Linked DNA regions of Homo sapiens: region 2 is linked to region 1. A link means that fine-mapping ties the variant in region 1 to the plasma level of a protein whose gene starts in the linked region. Region 1 holds a variant in brackets. A gene starts in the other region. All regions are shown on their reverse strands.

Region 1 (8,000 bases):
CATGCTGCCAGTTACAGGAAAATCCAGATATGTGAATGCAGATGAATTAGTGCAAAGCCAATACCACTATCAGGTAAAACAAAATCCACAACTAAAAATGTCAAGACCATTTCCTTTTGAGGTGTGTACATAATGTGATTTCATATAAAGAAAATGTTTTTGAATGATATCAGTAATAACTTTGCTCCCCTACCCTACCAAGAAGGGTAAGGGGGAATGAAGTACTCTGAAGAGGTACCTGTATCATAAAGCATATTAGAGACAGATTGACAGATTGGCCTAAGCAAAGCAAACAGTTTCTGCTACCATACCTATCGGCTATCTACCAAATGTTATATAGCCCCCTTTATCTTATTATTTCCTTATCAGGATATAAATAACCAATTTTTCAAAGTGCTGTAAGAAAATCTGTACAGACTGTGGAAACTAAACTCATTACAAAGGTGTATTAATTTCTGATACTGCTCTAGAAAGACAATAACAAAATATTTGGGTATTTAAAAGTAAACATTTAGCTGGAGTGTGCACAAGAAGCATAAACAATTTCTAAATTCATAAAAGATAAAAGGTTTATAAGATTAACATTTTCATTAGACTGAACTTACATAATCCATGTTAATGTGTTACTCGTGTATTTACCCCATCTTTTCCCTCCCCCATGTAAATTTCTCTCCCACTCTGCTTCCTAGGTAAGTTATTTTGGTAGATGTATATGCCAATCTGGTGGTCAGTCCCTTGAATATAAAGGTAACTGTGTGTTTATATTCACCACATGTCAGCAGTGTTGGGTATGCAGTATGCATACTCATAGAATTACATTGAATTAGATACGATACTGCACAGGAAAAAAGGGAAACTGGGGATGAAAAATCTCTATATTCTGTAGTCCAGAAAAATGTTACATTCTGTATGAAAAATCACCTTGAAGTGGAAAAGGCAAAAGATTTACTCTAAGGAAATAAATAACAAAGTATAATTATATACTTACAAGACTTGTGGGTCACTCCATTTTGATACACAGAGCTCTTCTAGCAACTCTTCCTCATCCAAGATCTCCAAAATTGACTCTTTGAAAATTTTAATATCTGTTTCTAACTCTGATAGACTATAAGAAATAGATACACAAAAATGATCAATAGAATAAACTTATAAGAACATTTCATAATAGTGTTTTTAGAGTATCTTATCAAATATATTATCTTATACATTCATGCTAAACAATGACTTATTTAAAAAAAAAAAAAAAGTTGAGTATTTACCAGGCAAATTAAGAATCAATTTGGCCAGGCATGGTGTCACGCCTGTAATCCTAGCACTTTAGGAGGCCAAGGCAGGAGGATTGCTTGAGCTCAGGAGTTTGAGACCCTCCTGGACAACAGTGAGATCTTGTCTCTACAAAAAAATTTAGAAAATTAGCTGGGCATGGTGGCATGTGCCTGCAGTCCCAGCTACTTGGGTGGTGGAGGTGGGAGGATTGCTGAAGGTTAAGGCTGCAGTGAGCTGAGACTGCACCACTGCACTCCAGCCTGGGCAACGGAGTGAAACCCCGTCTCAAAAACACCCACAAAAAACCCAAACCAAGGCTGCAGTGAGCTGAGACTGCACCACTGCACTCCAGCCTGGGCAACGGAGTGAAACCCTGTCTCAAAAACACCCACAAAAAACCCAAACCAGATCTAAATTAATTGGTAAAATTATCAGTGATATAAATTTCATCATACATTACTTATCTCAGAAACATAAATCGCTTGTGAATTTAAGATTTTTGGTTTGGGAATTTTATTAATCAACATGGCAGTGATAATATAGAACAGACTAGTTACTCTTAACTGATAAAAACACTCCAACATTTTTGGATAAGAAACTACTGATTCAGGAATTTTAAATGTTAATTCTTGAAGGGATTTCGGGAGTATAACTCCTGAGAGCATGTTTATTCTATTTATGATACATATATAATATTGTTATTAAATTCTGGAATGCATTATGATTTTAAAGAAAAAGAACAACATGGACTTTGAATTTGGATTTAGATCTGCCATTTACTAGCCATATAAATTTAGGCAAGTTACTCAAACCTCAATTTTCTCATCTTCAAAATGAAGACAATATCAACTATTGAATGGGTGATGAGATGAGATCACATACGGAAAAGAGCCTTACATGACATTTCATGCAAAGTATCTTTTCAACAAACAGTAGATTGTGTGCCCCTTTTAGCTCAACTTCCCACCTAGGCTACTTTCATACTTTAAAAAAAGTTATGAAACAAAATGTTAATAATTGATTTTAAGATATTTGTCTCCAACTCCCAATGTGATACATCATCCATATTTACCTTTTGCCATTCTGTAGTAAAATGTGCAGTTTGCTTCTGTCTACAGAAGAATGTTTGGGGTCCACCAAAGCATCCAAGGTCTCAAGGATCAGTGGCTGCAAAATGCTAAGTTTCCCCTGAAGGGTGTTGATCTAGATAACAACATGACCTTTCATAAGAATTAAAACAATCTTTTTAGAATATTCAGGATCAGTGAATCCTCTGATTAAATACAGAAATCTGTAGTAGCTTGAAATGCTGGTAACATTTCAGAACATAGATAATTCTAGAATGCCTATTCCAGATGATTCAAAAACTAGATCCTCTGGGTTCAAAGAACTATGTATGATGTTATCTTTAGGCACAGATTTGGTTGACAAGGAGCTAACTCTCGTAAGAGTCTTTCTCCTCCCGCCCGGCCAGCCGCCCCGTCCGGGAGGTGAGGGGCACCTCTGCCCGGCCGCCCCGTCTGGGAAGTGATGAGCCCCTCTGCCCAGCCGCCACCCCGTCTGGGAGGTGTACCCAACAGCTCATTGAGAACGGGCCACGATGATGATGGCGGTTTTGTCGAATAGAAAAGGGGGAAATGTGGAGAAAAGAAAGAGAGATCAGATTGTTACTGTGTCTGTGTAGAAAGAAGTAGACATAGGAGACTCCATTTTGTTCTGTACTAAGAAAAATTCTTCTGCCTTGGGATGCTGTTAATCTATAACCTTACCCCCAACCCTGTGCTCTCTGAAACATGTGCTGTGTCCACTCAGGGTTAAATGGATTAAGGGCGGTGCAAGATGTGCTTTGTTAAACAGATGCTTGAAGGCAGCATGCTCGTTAAGAGTCATCACCACTCCCTAATCTCAAGTACCCAGGGACACAAACACTGCGGAAGGCGGCAGGGTCCTCTTCCTAGGAAAACCAGAGACCCTTGTTCACATGTTTATCTGCTGACCTTCCCTCCACTATTGTCCTATGACCCTGCCAAATCCCCCTCTCCGAGAAACACCCAAGAATGATCAATAAATACTAAAAAAATTTAAAAAAAAAAGTCTTTCTCCTATAGACATTCATTATGAAGTAATGAGGGATCAAGTAAAATAAAATCTGCTATTATTAAAACACAAGCTTTCAGTAATACCTGTGTTCTCTGTAAACAGAATATGGTTCAAAATTCCTACAAAGCTCTTTGAAAATAAAAACTTGAGCTTTAAAACATAAACATATCAGAGTAAAGTCAAAAATAGACTATTTAGGTTAACACAAGTATGGTTTGATATTTGATATTCGGCAGGTATGCACTAATCCTGCTATATAGTTGTTAAAATACTGAAACACTTCCATGCCAGTTGGCAAATAGCATATACTAACTAAATCAAGCGGTAAAACTGATGACGTAAATTACAGCATATAGTCTTTATCTCAGAAGCACAATTACTGTGAAACAGATTTTTTTATTTGGAAACAAGTCCAGAGTCACAGTGCCTCTGCAGACATGTTGTTTATTTCGTCTCCAGAGGAACTGCTTCCGGGTTAAGAAGTCCTTGGGTGGGAGGGAAGACTGGACAGCCAAATAGGCAGACCACATCTTTTAATCTAAGAGATATCAAACCCTCTGCTCAGCAAGGTGTGGACTTTTGTAGTGGTTGGGGAGGCTGCTGAGGGTCACAGATAGGGTATTTGTGAGGCATATCTACTCATGGTATGTCTTGGTCCCTTAGGTGGGTTTGGGGAGCTTTCCCTTGTTCGAAAACTTATCCCTTTTGAGAGGTGGCTGGTCTTGCTTCTATGTAGTGTTGTTTCGTAAGGAAATCTTCCTGGGACCCCATTTAAAGGAAGAAGAATGTGTATCCCAGCAGACATCCTGAACTCCCTCTCTATTCTCCCCACAGCCAATCTCTAGGCCGGAGACCCATGCCAGCCTAGCCTCTCTCCTTCCCCTCCTGCTCCCTTTAAGATCCCTGTCTTTCTCCTAACAGCATGAGCTCCTGAGAGCTTACCCAGCCTGTGGAGCCCATGACTTACCACTGTTTACATCTTCTTTCTCTCTTCTGCTTTCCCCCTGCTTGGTAACTGGGCTCCCACTACTTATCATCTCACTGGCTGGTGCTAGCTGGTGCTCATTAATTACCCCAAGCAGGAAGTGTAGCCATCTATTCTTTCAGAGCAAGGCAGACAAAAGAAAAGTGTGCCAGGTTCACCCAACCCAATGCACCTCATGTCCTCTCTACCCTCTCTCCTCCTCCCACTCTGGTTAGTATGCTCCCAGCACCAACTCTTGCATGTAGCCAGTTCCTGAACAGTACCATCCTGACTTAACAGGAGGAAGAAAAGATAATGAAAGATTTGTGGGGTCAGGGAAGCAGAGAACCACCCTTGTTTAGAGCCTGACAGGAGTCTCAGACATCTAAGGACTCTTAATTTAAAGGAGGAGTCACTGGAAGAACTGTGCGTGATTCCTATGTCAATCTAGGTCTCAAAAAGATGCATCATTTACCTGGCTCAAACAAAGGATTGTACAAACAAATCAAAAAATGACTTGATGAAATGATTTAATAAAATAATTATCACATGTCAAGCATTTTTATAATATACATAGAGTCTTTAGTTCTATTTGACTGGGTCATAACATTTAAGAATTAAGTGATATCTCCATGTAGGATCCTTAGAGACGACTTGTTTCGGGGCAGGATGTGGTCAGGGGACATGCCATTGAAACAATACCCCAACTTGTCTTCCCACTCAATGACATTTCAAAATCAGAATAAACCCAAGAAGCTAAATAAAAACAGACTTACCCAATATTGCAGGAGTGCTTCTATAGCTCTAAACTCAAAAGGTAAAGGGTATGTAACGAGTTGACCCTCTCCAGACAACTGTGAAGGGAGTTCCCGGAACAGCCATTGCTCTAAGTTTAAATTACGATAATCTAATATCAGAAGACACTCTGGAGTTATCACAGCTTTCAAATACTGTTAAAAAAAAAAAAACCAAAACATATAAATATGTGAGTGTATATACACACATGCATGTATATACATATATATGTATACATACATATATATATGCAAATTGTAGAGCTGTAGGAAAAAAGAACATTCATAAAATTTGGTTTAATACTTTACTAATTGTGGATTAAGACTAAACCAAATCAGTGTTCA[T/C]TTTTGTTTTTCAAAAAAATCAAGGTTTTTTTTTTCAAAAGAAAAGAAACTTAAAAAATATATGTCTTGATACTGCTAACTCACTCTCAATAAAACTGGAATTATTCACATAAATTATATATTTACTAAGACTTCTGGGGTAATCATGAAAAAAAAACAAAAACAAAAAAAAAAACACCAAAAAATACCCCCAGAAAGCCGGGCATGGTGGCTCATGCCTGTAATCCCAGCACTTTTGGAGGCTGAGGAAGGTGGATCATGAGGTCAAGAGATCGAGACCATCCTGGCCAACATGGTGAAACCCCGTCTCTACTAAAAATACAAAAATCAGTTAGGCGTGGTGGCCCACACCTGTAGTCCCAGCTACTTCAGAGGCTGAGGCAGGAGAATCGCTTGAACCTGGGAGGCGGAGTTTGCAGTGAGCTGAGATTGTGCCACTGCACTCCAGCCTGGCGACAGAGCGAGACTCCGTCTTTCTTTTTTGGAAAAAATAAATAAATAAATAAAGGGAACAAGATAAGGTCTTCCTAAAAGTCAGGTATTGAGCAGACTTTTAGAAAAGATTTAGTTTAATCATAATTAGTTTGGCACAAATGGAAGTTTCCTTTTTAAAACACCACTAAAGCATATAAACAAAATCTGAAATTAAGATGAAACATAGCCTTACTACTCTAATTTAGAACAATATGAAATTAGAATTTTTTCTAAAAAGACTGGTTATCTTGTATGTTAAAAGTAGATAAAGGTAGCCACTTTATCAGTGATATAGAAATTAGAGATAATTTTCTATTTTTACATTTTTCCAACATTCTATCATGAATTTTTTTTTCTTTTTTTTTTTTGAGATGGAAGTCTTGCTCTGTCACCCAGGCTGGAGTGCAGTGGGGCAATCTCGGCTCACTGCAACCTCCACCTTCAGGGTTCAAGCTATTCTCCTACCTCAGCCTCCTGAGTAGCTGGAATTACAGGCACCCGCCACCATGCCTGGCTAATTTTTGTATTTTTTAGTAGAGACGGGGTTTCACCATGTTGGTCAGGCTGGTCTCGAACTCCTGACCTCAGGTGATCCACCCCTCTCGGCCTCCCAAAGTGCTGGGATTACAGATGTGAGCCACCACAACCTAGCCTCATGAAAATTTTTATACAGAAAAGTTGAAAGATTGCAGTGAACACCATATACCCACCAGTTAGATTACACAATTATCATTCTGCTGAATTTGCTTTTTCACATACCTGTCTGTCTCTCCATGAAAGAGACACTGTTTTGAAGAATGCTAGCTACTGATTCCAAGAGTAGAGAATATTTCTGAAGAAAATCACATGGGAGAAGACTGCTTCATTTTTGATAAAGTATTTTTTATTTACTTATTTATTTTTAGAGATGGGATCTTGCTATGTTGCTTAGGCTGGTCACAAACTCCTGGTCTCTGGTGACCCTCCCACTTCAGCCTCCTGAGTAGCTGGGACTAAAGGCACATGCTACCAATACTGGCCCATTTTTTATTATTTTGATTAGTTCTAGAAAAATGAACAAAAATCTGCCATCAAAGACTCTTTGAAGAAAGTCTCATACCCACTACAGGGCCAATACCATTCATCTATTTTTGAACCTAAACATTAGCCCACCAAAATAACTGAAACCCACATTAACTCTGAATCACTAAAGAAAGTCAAATTATTATTTGGCATGCTCTGAATAGGTAAGGGAAAATACAATATATTTCAGAAAGTTTTCCATTAAAAAAATTTAAACTGGCCAGGCACGGTGGCTCATGCCTGTAATCCCAGCACTTTGGGAGGCAGAGGCAGGTGGATCACCTGAGGTCGGGAGTTTCAGAGCAGCCTGACCAACATGGAGAAACCCCATGTCTACTAAAAATACAAAATTAGCTGGGTTTGGTGGCTTATGCCTGTAATCCCAGCTACTCAGAAGGCTGAGGCAGGAGAATTGCTTGAACCTGGGAGGTGGAGGTTGCAGTGAGCCAAGATCGTGCCAGCCTGGGCAACAAGAGCAAAACTCCATCTCAAAAAAAAAATTAAGGCTATAAAATTTAATGTCTATTCCTGTGCTATTTAGAAAGCCAGAATACATTTTTGGTAGCTCAGGTTATACTATAATTACATGTAACTGTACACAATTGGATATATATCTATTATAAATCAGGATTGTCTTATAGTTTCCAGAACTAGAGAGTAAATCCCAACAGTGAGAATGAACACCACAGTCAGAGCTTTTCCAACTTAAAACACAGCAGTGTTATGCCTATTGAACATGTGCATATAATCCATATAAAATGAGTTCTACTCATAATAGCATATTAAGCTATAAAACATCCTATGTTTCAGGTAGCTATTTCTATTCCAAAATTACTTTTAACCTAGATACTAATCAAGATAGTTAGAAGGTAACTTTTATAAGATTGTATTGGAGAAACATAGATGAAAATAAAATATTTTACCTCCATTCTCATGATAATCCTATTGTTTCTGACTGTGATACTCATTACATGCTGAAATCTCAAATCTCTGGC
Region 2 (8,526 bases), not on the chromosome of region 1:
CCAGCCACACACACAGCTTATGCTCACCAGAGTAAAAGCTCCAAGTTCTTGACTCACTCCTTACATCTTTCTCCAGTTCTTAGGCTCCTGGTCAGGAGGAAGTTCTGCCAGAAGTCTAACCTCCCTCCTTCCTTCTGAAATACCTCCTTTCTCCCTCTTAGCCCACAAAGGGTATCAAGTTCCTTTCTTCCAGAAACATTCTCTCCAAAACCCATTCCCCAAATTAGTGGAGGGGGAAGAAGAAAGAGGAAGTCGGAGGAAAGTGGAGAGGAAACTTTTGGTGCTGAACTGGACACTGGGTCTGGCCAGGAAGGGGGAAAAATAGCCAAAACAGAGGGGAGGGAGCCAGGGGGTGAGTGGGAAAGCCCAGAGAGACTCTTGCTCCCAAGAAGCTTTTGGGATACCAAGAGGCCTGGATGGGGGTAAATGGAGACAGGCAGAGAAAAATAAGACAAGTGACAGAGACGCAGAAAGCAGGGCAGAGAATGTCACAAAGGTTCGGCAGTAAGAGATGAACTGAGAGGGTGAGAGACAGAGAGGTTCTAAAAAGCCAAGACAGCGCACACTAATGACAGACAGACAGAAAGACAGACAGACAGCCAGAAAAGCCAGGAAGGGGGCTCAGTCCAGAGATTGCCAAGGGGATGACACAGTTGTCCTGGGATGAACCCAGAGAATGACTACCCCGCTGAGCCTAGAGTAGGGTGGGAGCAAGATCTGTCCTATCTTGGAGAGACAGAGTCTCGGCCCTAGGCAGTGCCTGACTCAAGGGAGACCCAGAATAGGGACCACTACCACCCCTGGAGTCAGGAGGGTAGAAAGGAGGGAGGAAAATGGAGCTCTTCAGCCAGGGAAGCTAAGGCCTGGTGGGAGAGGGAGAGGCTTTCATCTCCCCTAGGGGAGCAAGAGGGACAACTCTCCACATATACCCCTCACCTCTTTCCCAGGGAGGGTTTATATTGGTGCCTGAGGCCATTGCACCGGAAACACTCCAAAGCCAACTGCTTCCTTCTCCAAACAATGCAGGATCCTGCTAACCAGGCTGAAATCTGGGACAGAAGAGGGAGGCAGGTTCTCTATCGCTCATACCCAGCACTACCAAGTCAGGGGCCTTCCTGCAGTACCATTCAGCTGCACCCAGATGCCCCAAGAGCAATGAGCCCACACGCAGAGCTGGAGGACCTGAAAGGTAAAGAGTCTGAGGAGTGAGGAGGACCCTGAGAAGAGAGTACTGGGCGGGAATAAACCTAGGCTTGGGGGTTCTGATGTGCAAGGGCTCACACTGCAGCAGGAGGAAAGAGAGATAGACTTGAGTAAGGAAGGGCTTCCCAAAAGGTAAGGAAGGGGTTTTGAAGAATGGGGGCATCTGGACAGGAACTGACTCTGGCCAGGACCTGGGCTGTCATCCTTTGGGAGGCTCAGTGGTGGAAGGGTGGTTGAGAAAATGAAGAGAGGAGAGAGAACAAGATCAGAAGAAAAAGATGTCTAGTGAAGCAGCCCTAAACATCAAAATATCCCTCCAACCCCAAAATGAATTTCTTACACATTCTTGCTTTAAAAGACAACGAGGCAAAGGGAGACGTTTAGGATGTGAGTCTGATCAGGGAGAAAGGAGTTTAGAACTTTCTCTCAGGGATCCAGGAAGCTAACACCCCAGCTTCATAACTCACTTCCACTGTACCTACTCTAGTAACTGGTAATATGCCGGCTCAAGGGGGTGTGTGGAGGAAGGTCAGGAAAAAGGGAGGGAGGAAGTCAGCCTTATTCTGTGAGCTGTATTTGTCTGGGGGTGCCCTCCCCACTAGAAAATGTTCCCCAATCTCAGCAGGGCCCTCAATAGTCCCATTCTCCACCCCATCTTTCTGCAACCTCTCCAGCAGCAGGTACACTCAATTTTGTCGCTAGTGGGGAGTGACGTTACTCCCCAAAGGGCAGGGGACCCCAGAGGCAGTTTCAGGCATAGAAGAGAAAGCAGAAGAGGTGGGAAAGCCCCTAGGATTGCTGCCCTGGAGAGAAAGCAGCAAGGCTGTGATAGCAGGAGGAAGGTAACATACTAAGTCAGGTGAGCTGGGTCATCTCCATTCTCTGGAAAGTAAACAAGAAAGTTCAATGTTGATGGACCCTGAGGCAAGAGGGCAGGGGTTAGGGATAAGGGATCCCCTAGGCTGCCTCTGGATAGAGTTGAACTTACATTTCTATGCAATTCCCCTTTCTCACCACCCTGTACCCAAGAGTGGGGTGGAGCTGATTATTTATATTCCCACTCCCAAGGCAGAAATATTGGTGTGTGTTTGGGGAGGGGTCCTCTCCTGGGGCTTTGGATAGTTTGATCTGAGCTGGAGATACAGAGGGGGCGTGGGTGAACATTTTAAGAAAGGGTAGGGAGATAGTTAAGGAGAACATGTCCAGTCTCTCTCTTCCACTAACTTGGTGTGGCAAATAGAACTCCTTTAGAGCCCTGGGAGTGATGCTATCTGGGGTCCCTTCCTGACCTTCCCTGCTCTCCACAGAAACCCTCTTGCTTCTGCCTAACTCTAGCCACCCTCCTTCAAGGGGCTCCTGATGGGTCTCTCTCTCTCTCAAATTTTTTTTCTATTCCTCCCAGAAGCGGCTGCAACCCCAATCTCCCTGCCTCGATTTCCCTTCTCACCTCACAGGGCTGAGAACAAGAGAAAAACACATGATAATGACAGGAGTTATAGGCAGAAGCCGGCTGTGCGGCATCTGGAGGATATTCAGGAAAAGCCCCTCTCCTCCTCCGGGGCAGCTAATTGGTGGGGTGGGGGTGGGGGGTAGAGAGTCCCCAAGATGGCACAACTGAGGGACACTAAATATGTTTTTTGGGGACACAGCTGCTTCCTGACCCTGTAAGTCTCCTCCCCCAATTGAAGCAAGTTAGGGAGAGGGAGGGAGATAATCTGGTTTCAGAGAAAAACTTTCCCAATCCCAATCTGGCAAGACAGAGGAGGGGGTGTATGATGGTATCCAGCCCAGTTTTGTCTTTGGATGAGAGGGCTAAGATGACAGGAGGGGATGAGATCCCACCCCTTCTCAAATCAGGGACCTAGCCCAGCCCAACCCCATGACCCCAGCTTAATGCTTAAAGCTTGGGCAAGACTTGAACCAGTGACTCACAAGTAGGAGAAAAAAACAGCTGACAAAAAAAGGGAAGAGAGGCACCCCATTTCCCCAAAAGGATGCAGTTCTAGCCTAAGCCTAACTCTGCAATATACAAAGTGTGTGTGTATGGGGTTTTGGGCTTGGAGGGGTGCAGGGAATAAACAGATTTACTAAAGGAGTGTGGGGGCACAGCCATAATCCCCATCCAACCTCCAACTCTCCTTCCAATCCAAACTGTGATGAAGCCAGAAGTCAGGAAGAAGGCAGCCTCCCCCACCCTCCTACCCCAGCATTCCAGGCCATTCTCCAGTCCCCTTCCCCAGTGATGACATCTGACGTTTTTTCATCTCAAAGCTCCCAGGAATTAAGAAGGAAAATTCAAAGTCACATAGTATGGCGAGCTCCCCCTCTCTGCCCCCCAACACAGCCCTACCCCAGGCTACTGACAGAGGCCCTGAGAGGGGGAAGAGCCTACTTCAGCACCCAGGCCTCCAGCCGGGGCTCTGGGGTCGATTCCACGCCCAAGCAGGGGGCCCTCCCTCTCCCCACCCACAGCCTTCCCGGGCCTGCCTGCCCTCTGCCCGGCAGGGTACCCCTGGCCTGGCTCCCCTTTCGAGCTACAGAGGCCAGTGCAAAAGCCACCCCCCCCACCCCCACCCCCTTTTGCAGCCGAACATTGCAAATCCGGATTCCTTCACAATTCAGATGGGGGGTGGGGGGTTGTGAGGATGTAGGGGAGGCGGAGGCCCTCCCCGAACAGAGATAGGAAAAGAAGGCCTCTCCTCCCCAGGATCAGAAAAATGGGGAGCCCTCTTCTCTCTACCCAGGCCTCTGGTCTTTGTTTGTGCTGGGGGGCCCCGGAAGCATCATTTGCCCAGGGCCCCCATCCCCCAAATCGGACCCCATCCCCGCCCCCAGTCGGGCCGCTGCTGTGTCAGCTGGACTGGGATAACAAAAGGCACCCCCTCCCGCGTCTCCCTTCCCCATCCGTATGCAGGAGTGGGGGCTGGGGAGAGGGTGCCCCCAGGGGTCCAAGGGGGACGCGGAATCTCACTCACCGTCGATAGCCGCCGCGACCAGAGCTGAGAGCAGGGGCAGCAGCAGGAGCAACGGCGGGGTCAGCATGGTGTGGGCTGATGCAAGCAGCAGCCCCTTCCCCTCTGGTCCTGCTACTTCTCTCCTTCACCCCCCCCAGTTGGGGGGTCCCCCTTTTCCTCCTTTCCCCCTCCTCCTTCTCTGTTCTTATTCTTTCCTTCGGCAAAGCGCACCAGGGGCGTGGGTGAAGAGGTAGAGTTCCGAGCCCCTTGGGGAGGGCCTGCTGACGGGGGTGCGCCCCCTGCCCCGAAATCCAAACCCTTCACCCCACCCCCCCGCTTCACTCCTCGCTGCTCTTTCCCCCTCCCCGGGCGAAGCTCACAGCCCCATCTCGGAGCCGCCTCCGGCTGCAAAAATGCACAATTGGGAGGAGGCGGGGAGGGGGGGTGGGGGGCGTGGACCGGGTAGGGGAGCCTTTGGAGGGGGCTTGATGGAGCTCTGGGGGCTCCCCTTGTTTCCGCCTCCTCAGTGCATGGGCCTGGAGCTCGCACCGCTGTTCCCCGGACTGAAGTGCCGAGGGGGGGGCTGATGGGGGAGAGGGAGGGGACGGGTTGAGGAGGGAGGGAGGGAAGGGGCGGGGAAAGAAAAAAGGTTGGTGGGTGGGGGGAGAAAGAGCTACGCGGCAATCCAGTGAGTGCGCATGCGCCGATTTGACGCGCTGCCCGGGGGAGGGCGACGCGGACCCGCGACAGGGTTCGGAGTTCTGGAAAGCGGTCCAAGAGTGAGGGTCCCGGGGACTCGCTGGCTAGTTTGGGGCCTGGGGCGCCCTCTCCCCTGGCTGGGCCCTCCTCCCTGGTGCTCCAGAGAGCAGAAGGGGTCGAGGGTGGGATTGGGCAGTGGGCGGAGAGCTGAGCGGCTCCCCTTTGAAACTCAGTGTCATACTCTAGGATTTCAGGCTCCCTCCGGGGGCGTCCGGGACTCAGTGGTCTGGGCCGAGGCTCGATTTTCTAGGGGAACCCTGAAGGTGCCTCCTCTGCCCGGGGTGGGGACAGGGACCGCCAGTCCGCGGGGAAGGTGCAGGGAAAGGCTGAGCTTTGATTTGGAGACTTTGGAAGACCGGACTGGGATTGGGGCCTGCGAAGGAGGGGGCGGGGTTGGGGAGGGACCGCGAGGACCCGCCCCCACCTCGCTCCCGGGCTCGGAGTAAACAGGGACACCCGAGGGGACACGCCGGAGCTTGTCCGCCCGCGTGGGGCTCGGGGATGGAGCCCACCTTAGTACCCGCCCGCCCTGCTCGCCCAGCCCTAGGCGCGGGAGGGGCAGGCCCTGGTTTGGAGGGAGGTGAGTCACCAGCGGGTGGGGTTGAGGAAAGGCCACCCCCTTTCGCCCAAGAAGTCGGGGCTCATTTATTTTTCTGTTTTTTTTTTTTTTTTTTTTTTTAATACCTTCTGACTGGCTTGCCATCAAGTTAGGGTTTTAGATTCCGAGCGCCAGGATTTGGAATAAGATGAGGGACTCTGGACCTTCGTTTCCAGGCCTCGGGTTCCAAGGAGGTGTCTGCTGAGCGCCGGACCTTTGTCCCCAGGCTCAGCCCACACGGGAATGATACTTTGCAGAAGGCAGGCGCCAGGCGGTTCCCAGGGGCCAGTGAACGTGCTTTTGGTCACTGCCCCCTTCTGGGCGGCGTTTTATGGCTGTTACCTTAGTGTCTGACTTTCTAGGTGTCTGCATGTCAGAGTTCAAGGAGCGGGGCAGACGACGTCGGCTGCCAAAAATTGACGCTGGAGAGGAGGGACTGTTCCCCCTTTTACGTTCTAGTTACGGAAAAGTCCCCACTCCAGTCTGTCCTTGGCAGAAACAGGAGCAGCACGAAGGACTTGCCTCCTAATGACAGTGAGCTCAACCTTTAGCTTCTTCCAGCCGGCTTTGCTCAGCGCGGTGGCCACCTGCCTTTAGTCTCCTGGGCTAGAAACCTCAGACTTTATGCCAACTCAAGGGGGCCTTTCCTTCCTATATCCAATCTTGCCAGCCTGTGCTCCAGGCTTGTCATTTTTTTCCTCTGAAGTATATCTCAGATTTCCTCCATTTCCACTGCCAGAGAGTTGCTCCAGGCAGGAACGGGGTCTTATTTCTCCTTTTATCCAGCTCCCATGGCCCAACACAATGTGAGACGCACTATGCGGACTCACCAAATGCCTACGAGGTTCCTCCCAGGGCCCCTCCCAGTATTGGGATCCAAGTGAAATCAGGTCGAAACAGACTTTAGACAGCTTGACAGCTTTGAGAGGAAAACGGTATCTGGAGCAACCACATGTAGCCTGAGGGCTTGAAGGGGCTTTCCTCCCTCCCCCTACCCATCTGTCAGGTGAATCTTCCAAAAACTGCTTTCCCGGTGTCTCTTCCTTGCTGGGGAACCTCTAGTGGGTGTCTATAGACCAGTCAAATGTGAACTCCTCTTCAGTCATGGCTTTCCAAAACCTGGCCTCAGTCAGCATGCACTTCTCACTTGCAACCTCCCATCCCCTGCTGTCTCCTGAATGTGAATGTGTATTTTTATTAACTTTATATTGTTAAAAAAAAAAGAAAGAAAGAAAAGATAATACCTAGTGGTTAAAAAAAGTACAGGAAGGTAAAAAGTAAAAGGAAACTTGATGCTCTCCACACCCCCATTTTTCAGCTGCACCCTCAGAGTAACTTCTACTAACAGTTCTTCAGGTCTCCCCTACCAGCAGAGGTTTCCCCCCCGCCCAAGACGGAGTCTTGCCCCGTTGCCCAGGTTGGAGTGCAGTGGCCTAATCTCGGCTCACTACAACCTCTGCCTCCCGGGTTCGGCGATTCTTCTGCCTTGACCTCCCAAGTAGCTGGGATTACAGGCACACGCCACTATACCCAGCTAATTTTTTTTGTATTTTTGGTAGAGATGGGGTTTCACGATGTTGGCTAGGCTGGTCTCGAACTTCTGACCACGTGATCTGGCCTCCTCAGCCTCCCAAAGTGCTGGGATTACAGGCGTGAGCCACCGTGCCCGGCCAGGAGAGTTTTTAAAACAGTAACATACAGGCCAGGCGTGGTGGCTCATGCCTGTAATCCCAACACTTTGGGAGACGAAGGTGGGAGGATCACTTTTCAGGAGTTCGAGACCACACTGGCCAACATGGCGGAACCCCATATCTACTAAAAATACAAAAATGAGCCACGTATCGTGACGCATACCTGTAATCCCAGCTACTGGGGAGGCTGAGGCACGAGAATCGCTTGAACCCAGGAGGTGGAGGTTGTGGTGAGCCGAGATCGTGCCACTGCACTCCAGCCTGAGCAACAGAGGGAGACCCTGTCTCAAATAAATAAATAAATAAAACAGTAACATACAAATATAAGTGAATATCCTTTAAAACTATAAAGAAACTCATATGATATATAGTGTTCTGTAACTTGCCTTTTTTTCAATTAACTTAGCTTGATCCCTTTCCATACCGTATGAACGCATTTAGCTCACCCTTTGATCTTGGCTACTTGGAATCTCCTTGCTTGGATGTTCCACAGTTTGTTGGGATTGTTGGGCACTTGGGTTATTTCCAGCAGGTGAACTGCTGAGGGTATGTCTGTAAGGTGAGAGAATGCATATTTATGTCTTTCTTTCTTTCTTTCTTTCTTTTTTTTTTTTGAGATGGAGTTGCACTCTTGTTGCCCAGGCTGGAGTGCAGTGGTGTGATCTCAGCTCACTGCAACCTCCACCTCCCAGGTTCAAGCGATTCTCCTGCCTCAGCCTCCCGAATAGTTGAGATTACAGGCACCCACCACCATGCCTGGCTCATTTTTGTGTTTTTAGTAGAGATGGGATTTCTCCATGTTGGCCAGGCTGGTCTTAAACTCCTGACCTCAGGTGATCCATGCACCTTGGCCTCCCAAAGTGCTGTGATTACAGGTGTGAGCCACCTCACCCTGCTGAGAATGCATATTTCTATCTGAGCCATTAATGATACAGTTCCCCTGCTCCTCTACCCTCCTCAGAAAAGCCCTCCTGTTATTCTCGCTCTGCCTATCTCTCCTGTTCCAAACTTGTATTCAGGAAAGCTTCAGTATCCAGAGTTTAGCACTTTATTTTGTGGGCTCTGTATCCACCACTAGACTATATACTCCTTGAGGGCAGGGACCATGTCTTTTTCTTCTTCGTTTCCACCCAGCGTGAGAGGCTCTTGATTGGTGAAAGGAATGTTAGGACTAGAGTTGCCTTTCCTGGAACAGGATGTGACTTCAAGCATCTTCTTCCCTCTATTTCTCTTATAGCATTCATTGTTTAATCCTCTCTGCCTCAGTGCCTTCTCTTCCTCCCCACATCTGTTCTTAAGAGGCATCTTCAAATCCTTGGGT

Which allele goes with the higher level. Alleles are on the strand shown, and positions count from the first base shown. The strength of an association depends on the size of the effect and on how common the allele is.
For the plasma level of the protein whose gene starts at base 4,727 in region 2, T is the low allele of the variant in region 1 and C is the other (weak association).

What was found. A credible set is the group of variants that fine-mapping cannot tell apart. PIP is the posterior inclusion probability: the model's chance that the variant is causal. Protein levels are from antibody-based Olink assays in UK Biobank. Linkage for the fine-mapping came from a reference panel and not from the study's own genotypes, which makes the PIPs less certain.
Region 2: it holds the start of LRP1, and the variant in region 1 is the best candidate, but not a certain one, in a credible set for the plasma level of the LRP1 protein (UK Biobank, PIP 0.63).

What each region holds. Positions count from the first base shown.
Region 1 is chr6:24,409,502-24,417,501 of GRCh38, reverse strand. It overlaps MRS2 (magnesium transporter MRS2), which reads right to left. Exons shown (of 11, transcript NM_020662.4): 4 at 7,929-8,000; 5 at 5,107-5,280; 6 at 2,339-2,469; 7 at 989-1,105. Among named protein-coding and RNA genes, the nearest start is that of MRS2, 11 kb to the right of the region's middle. The variant T/C (reference allele first, on the strand shown) is at 5,470.
Region 2 is chr12:57,124,684-57,133,209 of GRCh38, reverse strand. It overlaps LRP1 (LDL receptor related protein 1), which reads right to left and starts at 4,727. Exons shown (of 89, transcript NM_002332.3): 1 at 4,179-4,727. The coding sequence starts at 4,245. RefSeq lists enhancers at 1,816-1,985, 5,067-5,720.